Linked DNA regions of Homo sapiens. The protein of the gene in region 2 interacts with the protein of the main gene of each other region in a biochemical or structural test. Each region holds a gene or a part of one and is shown on either strand. Other genes may lie near its edges. The genes, in order: TRIM47 and ADAR.

Evidence for each region.
Region 1: of the proteins of ADAR (region 2) and TRIM47, one has a biochemical effect on the other in vitro, tested with the Homo sapiens proteins (one study listed by BioGRID).

Annotation. Positions count from the first base shown.
Region 1 is NC_000017.11:75,875,342-75,882,824, forward strand, and holds the start of TRIM47 (E3 ubiquitin-protein ligase TRIM47), read right to left. Parts: upstream 3,241-7,483; 5' UTR 3,208-3,240; coding exon 2,533-3,207; exon of another isoform or gene 2,510-2,532; intron 2,484-2,509; exon of another isoform or gene 2,380-2,483; intron 1,473-2,379; coding exon 1,377-1,472; intron 1,152-1,376; coding exon 921-1,151; intron 759-920; coding exon 560-758; intron 134-559; coding exon 59-133; intron 1-58. UniProt on the Homo sapiens protein: E3 ubiquitin-protein ligase that mediates the ubiquitination and proteasomal degradation of CYLD.
Region 2 is NC_000001.11:154,584,103-154,591,368, forward strand, and holds part of ADAR (double-stranded RNA-specific adenosine deaminase), read right to left. Parts: intron 6,308-7,266; coding exon 6,082-6,307; intron 5,827-6,081; coding exon 5,655-5,826; intron 5,361-5,654; coding exon 5,267-5,360; intron 4,572-5,266; coding exon 4,449-4,571; intron 4,157-4,448; coding exon 4,023-4,156; intron 2,262-4,022; coding exon 2,079-2,261; intron 1,764-2,078; coding exon 1,651-1,763; intron 1,243-1,650; coding exon 1,115-1,242; intron 942-1,114; coding exon 704-941; 3' UTR 1-703. UniProt on the Homo sapiens protein: Catalyzes the hydrolytic deamination of adenosine to inosine in double-stranded RNA (dsRNA) referred to as A-to-I RNA editing.

The DNA.
Region 1 (7,483 bases), on a different chromosome or scaffold from region 2:
AGCCCAGCAGCCCTGGGAGGGCCCAGTGTGAGTGGAGGGGGCACGGGCGTCCACTTACACTTGAGGAAATAGTCCCTGGGAGCTTCACTCTCCAAGAGGTTCGTACTCTCGAGGTCTTGGGGCTCAGCATCAGCTGTAGAAGAGGAGACAGTGGTGAGAACGCCCCCAGACTGCCCCCCTCTGAACCTGTGACTACAATCCCTACCCCCTTCACTTCCTCCCAGAGTCCAGAGCCACCAGGGAGCAAGCACCACCCAGATGTGGCACGCTGTGCTCACACACATGCCCGTTGCCTGTGTTCTGCCTCTTGCCCCATGTGCTTCCCGGGCCACAGCCCTCTGGAGCTAGAGGGTGGGCTAGGAGAAGCCCCCTCTACCCCAGGTCCAAGGGGCTGATTGATCCCCACAGGGTGGCAGCTCTAGTCACTGGCAGGATTTGGGCTCCTCCCTGTGCCAGGCACAATTTTCCTCCTCCACTTCTGGATGGGCGCCAGGCCTGGGGGCCTGTGCGAGAGGCTGGCAGAGGGTGAGTCATCGGGGGGGCGTGGGGCGGTGCCCACCTTCCGAGTCCAGCTTCTGTGGCCCATCCTCGTTGCCACCCGGCCCCCTCAGCTGCTCCCACTGGTTGACGCAGGCCACGGCCAGCATGTCTCTCACTGCACGGACAGCTTGGGATGATTTGGTGAAGCTGAGCTCCCTCGGGGGTCCAGGCCCAGGGCCACACCCATCCTCCAGGGCCAGCCTTAGTGCCAGCAGCTCCTGTGCCAGACAAATGCCCATTAAAGTGCTGCTGGCCATGGCTCCTCCTTGCTGGGGGTGGAGGCAGCTCTGCCAGGAAGTCATGCACCCACTGCCTCCTCCTCCCTCCACCCCACCTGTCCCAGCTTCTGTTCCTTCCGTGGCCCCCAGAGCGGCCTTCACCTGCAGGAAGCTGACTGAGTCAGCTTCAGGGACCTGGCTGAGATTCTGGCGGGCTCGGCTCAGGCGGCTGCGCTGTTCCTCCTGTCGCCGCAGGTCACCCTGGGAGCGGCCTAGCATGGCAGCTTCCCCCTCCTCGATGAAGCCCAGCACCTGGGTCTGGAAGCCCTGCAGGGCGGCCGCAGCATCTGCAAACAGCCGGCTCACCCTCTCCCGCTCTGCTACGGCTGCACTCTGCACAGGACGACAGTAGAGGGGGCAATGAGGGCAAAGAACCGTCCCGGACTGTACCCCCCTCCTTCCCTGACCCCGGCTTCCCACCGGCCCTCTTGAGGGGACAGAGGGGCCAGACTGAGCCTGTCCTGGATCTGGGCCAGGTCAGGGGACACTTGTGCTCAGTAGGTATGGGCATGGTTTGTTTGGAGTGGATTGTTCCATGCTGAGGGAGGGGTGTTTGACCTTGATGAGGGCCACTGTGCGCCTGGACTGTGCAATGCCAGCACCCAGCTCGTCCATGCGGTCCTCCACGGCGCTCAGGACTTTGGACTGCTCAGCCTGTGGACAACACCCTCCATGAGTGTGAGGTCTGGCAGAGGCCACAGCCCTACACTCGGGTCCCAGGCCTTGCCAGGGGAGAGAAGGGGGTGACTGGGGAGTGGTATCTGTGCATCAGGTGGGACTGGAGTGGCCACGATGTCCCATAATATGCCAGAGGTGCCTGCAGCCCAGGCTGGTGCCTTTCCTGAACGCCTGGGGGGCGTGCAGGCTGACTGGGTGTCTGCCTCGGGTCTCTGACAGGAGGCCTAGTACAGGGCCGTCCGCTGGTCTCAGTGTTGCTCAGATGAATTTGAGAACTTCCTCCGGCGGGGAAGAGGCAGAGAGTAAGCCAGTTAGGTTGGGAGGTGGGCGGCGGAGGGGTGACTGCACAAGGAGGCATTAAGCTGTCCTGAGGATCACTGTTCCCAAAGAGCCTGCATCCACAGTCCAGGCCTGGAAAAAAGGGGATTCCGGGCAAATCCCCTAGGTCTTATGAGTCACTGCTCCAGGCAGGAGAAACGGAAAATCCCTTGGCCAGAGGCGCCAAGACCGGGCTGGAGGCCAAAGGAAACTGGGGGCGGGAGGTAGAGGCCGCGGCTCACATGCTCCCACCACTGGCCCCCGGAACAGCTGGACAGAGAATCTGTGTGCCCGGTCGCCCTCTGCCGCCCTCCTGCCGCCTGCCACACCCATCGAAAGCTGCTGCCTCAGCCCAGGGCAAATCTGAGCTGAGACCGGCGTGACCCTCCGGGCGGGAGCAGCAGCCACGCTACCGGAACCCCGCGGGCCTAACCCGGCTCCCTCCCGCCTACACCCCCATAGACCCCGGCCCGGCTTCAGGTCCCCTGCCCGCTCTTCGCGTCCTTGTCCTGTTCTCACGTCCCTCCTTCCTCCCTTCCCATCTCCATCACCGCCAGCAGATGACCTTGTCAAGGCTGGAAGGGACCGCAAAGATCCTCAGGTTAGAGGAGGAGATTAAGACCCAACCCGGGAAGACTGGGGGGTCCAAGGTCCTCGGCCCGCTCGCGCGCGGTCGGTCACCAGCCCCGGCTCACCCGAGTGTGCCCCCGGAGCCCACCTCCTGAAGCGCGCGCTCCTGCTCCAGCGGCACCAGCTCGTGGCCGCGGTGCTCCTGTGCGGCGCAGGCCTCGCACAGACACACGCGCTCCGCGCGGCAGTAGCGCTCGAGCGGCCGTAGGTGGCGCGGGCACAGGCTCTCCTCTAGCCGGCGCAGCGGCGGCACCAGGCGGTGTCCGCGGAGGGCGGGGCTGCGCTCGTGCGGGCCCAGGTGCGCGGGGCAAAAGGAGGCGAGGCAGGAGAGGCAGGACAGCGCGGCGGGCAGGGCCGCGCCCTCGGGGCACGCGTCGCAGCGCACTGGCTCTTCGCCCGCGGGCCACGGCTCGGGAGCGCAGGGGGCCGACGGCTCCGGGACACTGGGCAGCGCGCTGGGTGCCGAGGGCTCCGGGGCCAGGGCAGGGGCCGGGCCGGGGCCGGACCCGGGGCCCGAGCCCTGGCGGAGCTGCAGCAGCTCGGACAGCGTGTGGTTCTTGCGGAGCTGAAGGCCGTCGGGGAAGGGCTCCTGGCACAGCGGGCAGCGGGCCGCGCCTCCGGGTCCGCCGGCTCCACTCGCGCCACGATGCGGCCAGAGCGCGCCCAGGCAGGCGAGACAGAAGTTGTGGCCGCAGGGCAGCGTCACCGGCTCCCGGAGTGGCTCTAGGCAGATGGGGCAGCTGAAGGGTCCACTGCCGTCCATGACTCCGCGGCCGCCCAGGGCGCCGCCGATTGTGCTCCGGCCTGGGAGGGACCCGGGCCGTTCGCGCCGCGGCACCTCCCCCTGGGACCTAGGCCAGGGCTCCGGCCCCCGCCCGCCCCCAGCTCGGCCCGCCCCGCAGCACCGCCCGCCTGCGGGCCCGCGGACTCCCAGTCCCCGCCCAGACAACGCAGGGAGGCCTCCGAGCCCGCGCGACCCCCAGGGGAGTCCGCGTGGTCCTAAGGAAGGGCGCTGCTGAAAGGGTGTGAAACTGAGTGAGCGCGGGCGGAGAACGCGAGAGGTACAGTGGAAGGAATGGGAAGGACTCAGCCTCCATCCCTCTGGTCCTTCTGGGCCAGGCCAGCGCTCCGCAGGGGCTGGGCGCGTCTAGCTGTGTCATGCCTGCACCTTTGCGCTCGACCCCTCCCTGGCACCCTTAGCAAAGTTCCTGAGCTGCTGACTGCAGAGAAAAATAACTGCTGATGTACATATGTTTTTGCCCCTTAGCGACTCTTTTTTTTTTTTTTTTTGAGACAGAGTTCCTCTCTTGTCGCCCAGGCTGGAGTGCAGGGGCGCTATCTCGGCTCACTGCAACCTCCGCCTCCCGGATTCAAGTGATTCTCCTGCCTTAGCCTCCCAAGTAGCTGGAATTATAGGCGCTTGCCACCACACCAGGCAAATTTTTGTATTTTTTTGTAGAGACGGAGTTTCACCTTGTCCAGGCTGGTCTTGAACTCGTGACCTCAGGTGATCCACCTGCCTCGGCCTCCCAAAGTGCTGGGATTACAGGCGTGAGCCACAGCGCCCAGCTCCTTTAGCGACTCTTTACCCCAAGTAGGGAACTTGGACTTTTCTAGACCTGAAATGGGAAGTTGACGTCATTCCCTAAGTCCCTTGTCTGAGGAATGTAGTTCTGGCCCCTGGACACTGGGGACACCTGTGGTGGGGTTGGGGGTTCCCCAACTGGAAGTATTTAAAGCTCATCTAATTATGCACTTAAAGTGGTGCGTTTTATTGTATGAGTTATATCTCAATAATGTTAAGTTAAAACACTACACCAGAATGACAACAAAATAAGTAAAGTAGCACTGATTATAACCCAAAGTGTAAAATAAACATCTATGAGTCCATGCCGATATAAATAAATAATAAATTAACAAGCTGGGGAGAACAGACATATTTCGCATTGAAAATTCCAAATAATGTTTTTTTATTTTTATTTTTTTAGATGGAGTTTCGCTCTTGTCGCCCAGGCTGGAGTGCAGTGGCGCAATCTCAGCTCACTGCAACCTCTGTCTCCTGGGTTCAAGCGATTCTCCCTCCTCGGACTCTTGAGTAGCTGGGATTACAGGCGCCCGCCACCACATTTGGCTAATTTTTGTATTTTTAGTAGAGACGGGGTTTCACCATGTTGGCCAAGCTGGTCTCGAACTGCTGACTTCAGGTGATCCACCCGCCTCGGCCTCCCAAAGTGCTGGGATTACAGACATGAGCCACCGCACCCAGAGATATCTGTAATTTTGGTTAGTGACAAAGTCACAGGTAACTGCTCATACCACTCTGGTGTATTCTCTCCATTTGGAATAGAAAGAAATGCTGTGTTTCAGTAAGGTGCTGCAGCGTGGCTTCCTTCTGCAGGATCTGAGGGAGACTCTGTCCTGGGCGTCTGTCCCAGCTTCTGGTACTGGCTGGCAATTCTTGGCGTTCCTTGGCTTGTAGCTGTAAGATGCGCTCTAATATCAGTCTCTGTTGTCATTTGCCTTTTCTCTGTGTCTGTGTTCAAATGTCCTTTTTTTTTTTTTTTTTAGGGAGTCTTGCTCTGTTGCCCACTCAAACTGCTGGGCTCGAGTAATCTGCCTGCCTCAGCCTCCCAAAGTGCTAGGATTACAGGCGTGAGCCACTGTGCCCGGTGCCCATTTCCTCTTATCAGGACACCAGTTGTTGGATTAGGGCACGCTCTACTCCAGTATGCCCTCATCTTAACTCAGTCACATCTGAAAATACTCTATTTCCAAATAAGGTCACAGCCACAGGTCCTGGGGGTTAGGATCCGAATACGTCTTTTTCAGGGAACAGGATTCAACCTATAACAGTGCATAAGTAAGGAAATGTTGGAGAGAGGCCCAGGCCCAAATGTGCTAGAGGTCATGCATGTCCCCCGGTGTTCCTGGCCCTCTCTGTGTTCCAGGACCCTGGCCCTTCCCTAAACCTCAGCACACACTGCTGCTTGTCCCACACCCAAACCCTTGTCCACCTCTCCCACCGGGTCTGCATTCCTGCCTCTGTTTCCCCAGCTCTCTAGGCTTGGGGGGTGGGAAAATACCCTCAGGTCCCCTGAGACCAGACTAGAAATGTTCAGAAGGCACTTCATGAGTTCAGAGCTAAAGAGGAGAAAACACAAGCAAAAGAGCACAAATGTGCCGGGTGTGGTGGCTCACGCCTGGAATCCCAGGACTTTGGGAGGCTGAGGCGGGCGGATCACTTGAGGTCACGAGTTCCAGACCAGCCTGGTTAACATGGCGAAACCCCATCTCTACTAAAAATACAAAAAAATTAGCCGGGCGTGGTGGTGCACACACTTGTATTCCCAGCTACTCGGGAGTCTGAGGCAGGAGAATCGCTTGAACCAAGGAGGCAGAGGTTGTGCCACTGTACTCTCCAGCCTCGGTGACACAGCGAGACTCCATCTCAAAAAAAAAAAAAAAAAAAAAAGAAAAGAAAAGAAGAAAGAAAGAAGGAGGGACCCAGCCTCTTGGGGAGGGAGCTGGCTCTCCAGGCACTCAGGAACCCCTGTCTTAGTGTGTCTGGGCTGCTATCCCAGAACACCAGAGACTGGGTGGCTTATACACAACAGACACTCCTCACAGTTCTGGAGGCTGGAAGTCTGCGATCACGGTGACAGCACAGTCAGGGTTCCAGTGAGAGCTGCTTCCTGGGTTGTAGATGGCTGCCTTCCCACTGTGTCCTCACATGGCCAAGAGACAGCCAGAGAGCCTTTGGGGCCCCTTGGACAAGGGCACTCATGCCATGAATGAGGCTCCGCCCACCTGAAGACCCCACCTCCTAGGACCATCACCTTAGGGGTCAGGATCTCAACACATCAATTCTGAGGGTACACACACATTCAGACTGTTGCAACTCCAAGTGCCAAAAGAGCGGTGCAATCTGCTCCTGGGGGCTCCATGGGAAAGGCTGGGGAACTGTGGAAGTGGCATTTGAGCTGGGCTTTCACAGACTGCCAGGACTCAGGCGGGCAGAGACTGGGGTGGGAAAAGACCTTCCGGGCAGAGGGAGTAGCAGAGGGAGCCGGCCTGGGTGTGTCTGATTTGGCAGGAGGGTGGGTAATGAGTTCCATACATTGGTTTCCACCAAGAGCACTAGAGCACTTGATCAGGACTATCACTTGTTTGCCAAGCCCCAGGAGCGGTTGGGAGGCCCAGGCATCAGTGCCACCCTGCTCCGTGGCTTTGGTGCCCAGGCTGCCTGGGTTTGGTGAGGCCACAAACCTGCCTGGTTCTGGAAGGAGGGGGTGCCTTTCCGGTTGGGTCCCAGCCAACCCTCTGCTCCCCACCCACAGCCTGCTGTCCTCCCTGCTTGAAAAGATCTGCTCCCCAGGAGGAAAGCACAGAGATGCGGTTTGTCAGTGTGGTGGCATCTTGCTACTTCTTTTCTTTTTTTTTCAAATGGAGTCTCGCTCTGTCGCCCAGGCTGGAGTTCAGTGGCGCAATCTCATCTCACTGCAACCTCCACCTTCTGGGTTCAAGCGATTCTCCTGCTTCAGCCTCCCCAGTAGCTGGGATTACAGGCATGCATCACCACGCTCGGCTAAATTTTGTATTTTTTAGTGGCGATGGGGTTTCACCATGTTGGCCAGGCTGGTCTCAAACCCCTGACCTCAGGTGATCTGCCTGCCTCGGCCTCCCAAAGTGCTGGGATTACAGACGTGAGCCACCGCGCCCAGCCTGGCATCTTGCTATTTCATTTCCATTTCCAGAGTTTTGAAGTTGTTTGCCTAGTGTATTAGTTCACTTCAAAATGAATTGTCTAAGAGTCAAGGGCAAGGGTAACTGGCACCATGTGAGCTCAGCATGTTCACACCTGCCCTCATTCTGTCTGTCCAAGGACCCTATCCTAAAGGATGGCAACTGGAATTCCGATAGGTACCATGTCTTGCCAGAGGTCACATAACTTGTCCTGCAGAGGAAGCAGAATTTAAGCTCAAGAGGTTGCAGCTTGAATAATTATAAATCTCACATATGACTGTCTGGCTGTAGTAGTA
Region 2 (7,266 bases):
GAAAGTGATACACTTCCAGGGAAGCAGCTTTCCTTGCCTTGCCCGCCCTGCAGCTGGCTAAAGTGCAGGATGGGAGGATGGCTGGGCATTATCTGCAGGCTCCAATCACACTTCCGTGGCACTGGGAACTGCAGTTTTCAACTCCTACCCTTACAAATGTTTCACCAAATCCTTTATGTTCACCTCTTTGCCCTCTGAGGGGGAAAAGGAGACATTCAGATCACAAGGAAAGAATCTCAGAAGGGAAAGAGGGGAAGTAGAGGGGTCTGCGTAATCCACAAATGAAATTATCAGTCCCTGACATGATCCAGAGTTGACTGAAACCTAATCAAGACCGCAAGAGGTCAGTGTAGCAAACACAAAGGGAAAGGAAATGGAAACAAATCAAAACAAAACTTTTAAGAGGAAATGGACCGCAGGTGCTCAGTGACTATGTATGCTTTGGGTAGAAAGAAAAGATAACTTCTTAGGTTTCTGCCTCTTCACTTGGGGGAAAAAAGGGGGGCCTGGCCAGACCTTGCCTAGCAATCCCAAAGAAAGCAGGATAAATGGGAACCCAAAGTTTTCAGTATCACCAATTATGGCTTAAAAAGAAAAAAAAAGGAGAAAAAAAAATCCCCTGACCATGTGATGAGGAATGCTACGACCTACCTCTCTCACACCCTAGTATGACACACCCTAATCCATCTGTCACTGGAGCATACTATACTGGGCAGAGATAAAAGTTCTTTTCCTCCTGGGGTTTGCTAATCCAGTTCCCATAGCCCATATCCTTCAGGCCTTTTTTGAAGTAGTTCTTGGCCGTCTCGTAGTCACGGGCAGCTTTCTTGGCCTCACCATAGGAGAGTCTCAGTAGATCCCTGCGGTAACGGAAGGAGCAGAGCTTCTTAAATAGAAGAAAAATGTTCTTTTTGGAGACCCGGGACAATTCATTCCGTGGCCTAGAGAAACAAAAGCACTCATTATTCACCTGGGACCTGTAAGATAAGGAGCTCACAGTGGAGACACCGTGGGAGGGGAGGCGGCTCTCAAGCCCTGAGACTGCAGAGGTATGATGCACCCTTGCAAGTCAGGGCAGAGGCTTGGTCCTCACTGCGCTCTCCTGTCTCCTTACCCATCCACAGTGCCTCTGGTACCGTCCAGGATCTCCAGGTCATAGCCATCAGCCAGACACCAGTTGACGCTTGTCTCCTTAGTCTTCCCGGATTGCCTTTTGGAATCATATATGCTGACTCTGCCAACCTAGGAATCCCAGAAGCAACGGGAGAAAGATGGAAACCTTTCAGGAATAAGATTCTGAAGCAGGGACTCAAGACTCATAGGAGAGAGGAAGTGTGGGGTCATGATCTTTCCCCTGTATTTAGGGTTCTGTTTGGCTAAGACTGAGCACCCTCTAGACATACTAACTCCACCTCGATTCAGATTAATTCCAGACTAAGAGAAGAAAAGCCCTTGGCATCCAAAAGGAAGAAAGTTTAAGTTCTTGGGAGACCAACCAATGTTGGTGGTGGGCCACTGTGGGCAATGTTCCCTTGTGGGCTACCACTGTGGGCAATGTTCCCCTTGCCCACAGTGTACATTTTTCCTCTGTTTACATGACTGCTTGAAAAGGAGGAAAATGTCAGGGAAAATAGAAGGGGGTTATAGCACCTTGGGGTGGTTGACAATAAAGGGATGTCGTAGTCCATCCTCAAATGCACTCCCATCTCTTGTCACACGACAGCAAATAGCACGGGTCAGATGCCCTTGGCTGAAAAGGTAACCTGAGTACAAAAAAGAGAAACATATATACCTGTGTTTGCACCAAATGCTGTTAAGAGGCAGAAGCATGTGGGGATTTTGGAGGTACAAGATATAGTTGTCAAGAAAGAGAAACAGCTGCCTTGTTAGGAAGCACCTTCTGACTGGGGCTACCAGGATCTTCCTACCACAGCAGACTGGACACTCAATCAATTACTGAGGAGTGAATCATGCTCACTTTGATAAGGGAGACAAAACACCTGGCAATAAAGCATGCAGTTTGGGATCTGGGCACAAGAAGGACAGACCAGTTCCAGATCCCAAGGCAGGCCCCTTACCCAATGTGACAGATTTGAGATAAATGGGCTGCAGGAAGTGGGTCAACAGTGCCCCTTGCAGGCCCAGCACGTTCCAGCGTAGGATTTTGTCACTACAGGACATGGTACGGAGTCTCTCCCCGAGCCGAATGCCATCCCACGTAGGCACAATGTCACTGGATTCCACAGGGATTGTGCCTTCTCCTGTGTGAGAGACTTGGGTCAGACCCACAGGCGCCAATGGACCAAACCACTCCCTGGCGTGGTTTCTATCCTCCTTAAGCTTGGGCCACAGGCTACATTCATTCATTCTTCACATATTTCACAGCCCCTGCTATGCGCCAGGCACTATGCTTGGTGCTGGGAAAGAACGGTGAGCAAAACCAAGTAAGATCTTTGTGCTCTTAAAACATCTATGGTGGTGAGGAGATTGAAAGGGAAGAGAATAGACACTAAACCAGTAGCCAGTACATACGGAAGAATTCCAGATGCTGACAGTGCTCTGAAGGCTCTGAGGCAGCTATGACGGAGGACCACAGGGGACACCTCCTGGGACAGCAGCAGCAGGGGAGCCCAGACATGGAGGAGGACAGCTGGAGTAAGTGTTTCAGGCACACAGGACAAAAGCAAAGGCCCCAAGGCAGCCAGCGGATTGGCTGTTCAGGCGCCTGACAGAGAGCCAGTGTGGACAGAGCATATGCGAGGGATGGGGAAAGTGGCATGAGAGGAGGCCGGGTGATCACAGCAGGTTTTGCTTGTATATGCAGTGCAGTGGGAAACCACTATCGGGTTTAAAAAAAAACAAAAAAAAATGCTTTACTGAGATATAGTTCATATGCCATACAGTTCACCCATTTAAAGCATACAATTCAGTCATTTTTAGTATATTCACAGAGTTCTGCAACTGTCACCACAGTCAATTTTAGAACATTTCATCGCTCCAAAAAGAAACCTTCTACCCATTGGCGCAGTCACTCCTCATCTCTCCAACTCTCCCACTCCTGGCCCTGGCAACCACTCATCTACTTTCTGTCTCTATGGATTTGTCTATTCTGGACATTTCATATAAATGGAATCATACAATATGTGATCTTTTGTGACTGGCTTTTTTCATTTGGCATCAAGTTTTCAAGTGCATCCATATTGTAAGCATGTATCAGCACTTCACTTCTTTTTATGGCCAAAATAATATTCAATTTATGGATATATTTGATGTTTTATTTATGAATCCATCAGCTGATGGACGTCTGGGTTGTTTCCACTTTTTTGGCTCTTGTGAGTAATGCTGCCATGAACATTCACATATTAGTTTCCGTGTGGACACAGATCTCCATCTCTCTGCAGCATATACCTAGGAGTGGAGCACCGGCTCCATGGTAACTGTGTCTATACTTTAGGGTATTTAGCAAGGTTTCAGGACCACCATGATGACTGCTGACGTGGCCTGAACGCAATGGAGTGGATGCGAAGAGACAGTAAGGAGACAGGAGAGGATAGGAGAGAAGGAGCCAGTGGACAAGGCAGAGTCAACTGCCAGCTAGACAGGAGGGGACCCCAGCATTTGGCATCCTCATCTGTCAACTCCTCAGGGCTTGGTTGTGCCGCACTCTTCATTTCCTCCCCGCTTTCTTGAGGTAATCCTATGCATTCTCATGGCCATGAAGACCCTATAGGGGGATGACTCCCATATTTCTATTTCCAGCCAAGCTCCCTCCTCTGAGCTCCACATGGGAACCCCCACCTCCTATTTGACTTGGGGATCTCCCAGATCTCCCAAACTAACACATTCAAAATAGAACCCTGATCTTACCACACAGCTCCCTGACCCAGGTCTTCCCTTTCCTGTAAACAGCACCTCTGTGCCCAGTGACTAATGGTAAAATCCTAGCAGCCTTGTAGAGACTTGGGGTCCCTGGACCTTGCAGAGCCTTTTGAGGAAAGGAGGCGGGGGCATGTATCACTCACCGTTCTCCACCTTGGTGCGGAGCTTTCCTTGTTTGGGATTCTCGAAGACAGGGTAGTGGCGGGATTCTGTGCTTTCCATAGCACGGTCGCTGCAGGACTTGTCAAAGAGGGCGCCATCTCCACACGGAGCAGTGCTGAAAAACAGGGGTGGCTGTTAAAACTCACCTGTGGGAAATCTGCAATTTCGTGGGGCTCCAAAACAGTCAGATGTGACAGAAGCAAGGGATGTTTTCTAAGGCCTACCATGGGAGACTGGAGGTGGACAGCAGTACATGTGAGTCATCTACACCTGAATATGGACCTCAAACCCACAGTGGAGTGTGGCTTATTGTATCAGGTTCGATTTACAGGCCAGGAGAGCATTTGGATACCCAATTCTAACAGCCTGGCAGGGCCCACCCTGGCAGCAACAGGAACTGTACAGACCTGATATACAGATGGAATGACACAGTCTTTTTTATTTGGAGCTTTTCTCCTCCCTTAGCAGGTTCAAATATACTATCCTTCGCAGTCTGGGAGTTGTATTTCATTAACTCACTGTAGAGAAACCTACAAAAAGAAAGTCTGGTTAGGAAGGCAGGTTCAATTCTGGGAAAAGCAGTTGTTTCTATAATCTGACCTCCAAATGAGAAAGTAAGGAAAAGTCTCAATGTTGCAGACGTTTCACAGTTTATCAGGTGGAAATTCTCCAGGGGAGACCTCAGCATTTCATAAAGCATAGTTAGCCTTTTGGGTCTCCTTCATTTCTGCTGAGGGCTCCTCGCTATGGCGGCTACAGGGATTCTAGAGCAGAGCAAACTGATTCAAGGACTACAGGAAGCTGTTGCTCCTTTCTAAGTCTCTCCCTTCATAAATTAAAGAAAAGGTGAGCTAGAGGAGAAAGCTGGCAGGGGCATCAAGGTTGTGTAGGTCCTCAAACGGAAATGGAAAGCTGCCTCATCCTCAAGGCCCTGAGGACTAAAAGGTCATTTTGTGTTTTTAGAAAAGAACATGAAGCAGCAGAGTTAGCAGAAAAAAGGACAGCATTTAAAAACAGGCCGAGCAGTGGGAGGCAGCTCAGCTCACAGAGGGGATGGATTCCATCAGACAGGTTCAAATGGACGGGTGAAAAGCAAAGGCTGCCACTGCCACATCATGACCCGTCTGTCTGAGGGGGATTCAGAGGCCGTGTCAGAGCCATGTGGGGCAGGGAACTGGAGCTCTCCACAGCCGGGCAGCCGGGCCACAGCTCTGACCTCGCTCACCTGATGAAGCCTCTCCGGGAGATTATTTCTGCATGGCAGTCATTGACAGTTTCTCCTTTTAGGCTGAGAGAATCTCCTTTCACACAGCGATTCCCTAGGAAGGTGTTTAAAACAGAAATAGAATAATGGAAGGAAACCGATGGAAAACAGGATGAAGGCTATTTGTTCTGAAAGCTTCAAGGCAGAAACAGCCTCAGTTTCTCAGATCCTAGACTCCCATATTCTCTCCTCTAGGAACTAAGAACTCATTCCTCACTCTGAATTGACTGTAGCTAAAATGAAGTCTCTTCTCCCTGCCTTGGACTTACATGCATGGACTCCAGGGGAGGATGAGAGGCACCCGCTTTCAGGCGCCATGGGAGGCGGCATGTCTCAGAGCCTCACTCACCTGTTCCCAAGCTGACGACGACACCCATGTCCTCAGAGTCTTTTTTCATAATGATGGCGGCCAGAATCTTGCGGCCGAGCAAGGAGGGCTGGAAGCTGTTAGTCAGAGTGTTGAAGCACCGGTGGCTCAGCATGGCTATCTGGTCATGGAAGGTGCTGCCAGTGAGAGGGAGCTGTGGGGAAAAGAGGCTGTGTCAGCACCACAAAGCTGAGGCTGTGTCCACCATATTCACCGTGGGCAGGGAGATCAAGCTCTACTTGTCGTGTGAGTCATCTTTTCCTTCTTACATCTAGTGTCCCAGTTACTGCTCTCTCGAGGCTAAGAGTAAAGCCTAGGAATAACTCGCATGACAGCAAGAGCCACCTCCACTTAGGAGTTAGGAGGACCCCCCCGCCCCAAAAAAGGCACCAAAAGTAGACGTCTTAACTGTCTTTGGCTGTGCTTCTGGGGACCTTGAGAGGAGGAGCATAGTTCTTCTGAGACTGGCCCCTGTCACTGGGGTTACCTCTGTGAAACCCATGCGTTCTGCCTTCTCGTTCTCCCCAATCAAGACACGGAGAGCCGCATCTGCTGCTTCCTGCTTGCCTTGCTTCTTGCTGTGTGCGCAGACGGCTGGGAACCAGCGACCCCCAACTTTTGCTTGGTAAACGAACCTTTGGGATGAGAAACAGAGAATGAAGACAAGTGCCAGACCCTGACATTGTTCCAAGGAAGGGTTAGTTTTGCTGAAGATGTGGCCAGTCTTGCAAACATATGGACCCGTCAAACAGAAGCTGTTTCTAAGGCAGCATTTCCTAGATTTTGGTCATTCATGAATCACCACATGATTTGTGCCACATCCAGGTATTACTTGGACTATTAATTAATATTTTTCTCTAAATTGACTTCTTAGAGCCAGCCATTGTGGCTCACACCTGTAATCCCAGCAACTTGAGGAGCTAAGGTGGGAGATCACTTGAGGCCAGGAGTTCAAGACCAGCCTGGGCAACATAGTAATCCCCCAGGCAACATAGCGAGACCCCTGTCTCTTAAAAAAAAAAAAAAAAATTTAGCTGGGCACGGTGGTCTGTGCCTATAGTCTCAGCTACTTGGGAGGCTGGGGTGAGAGGATCACTTGAGCCCTGGAGGTCAAGGCTGCAGTGAGCTATGACCATATCACTGCACTCCAGCCTGCGCGAGACAGCAAGATCCCCATCTCTAAAATAAACAAACAGACTCTAAAAATGTAAATATCCGTAATACTAGGTATGAAAAAAGAGATAAAAATGTAAACACACTGAAATAGGAAACTTTGTTTCACTACTGTAAATGGAAAACCAGTATCACTTGCCACATATTGAAGGTGGCTGTAAAACAGAATATGATAAAATCATGTTATAAAATTCTGACTAGATACTGTTACCTGCAAAGGCTCTGAGCCTGTCCTTACTATAAAGGAAGATTATGAAGTATGAGGAAGGCTTAACGAAATGCTAGCACCAACTTGGACTCTCTTCTTAAGCAGAAATCAGAAGGGACTACCTTTCTCCCCACAAGTCACTGTTACTTCATACACTGTCTGATTTTTAAAGCGCCCAACTCCATTCCCTCATTTACTTCCTATTAGCTCAAG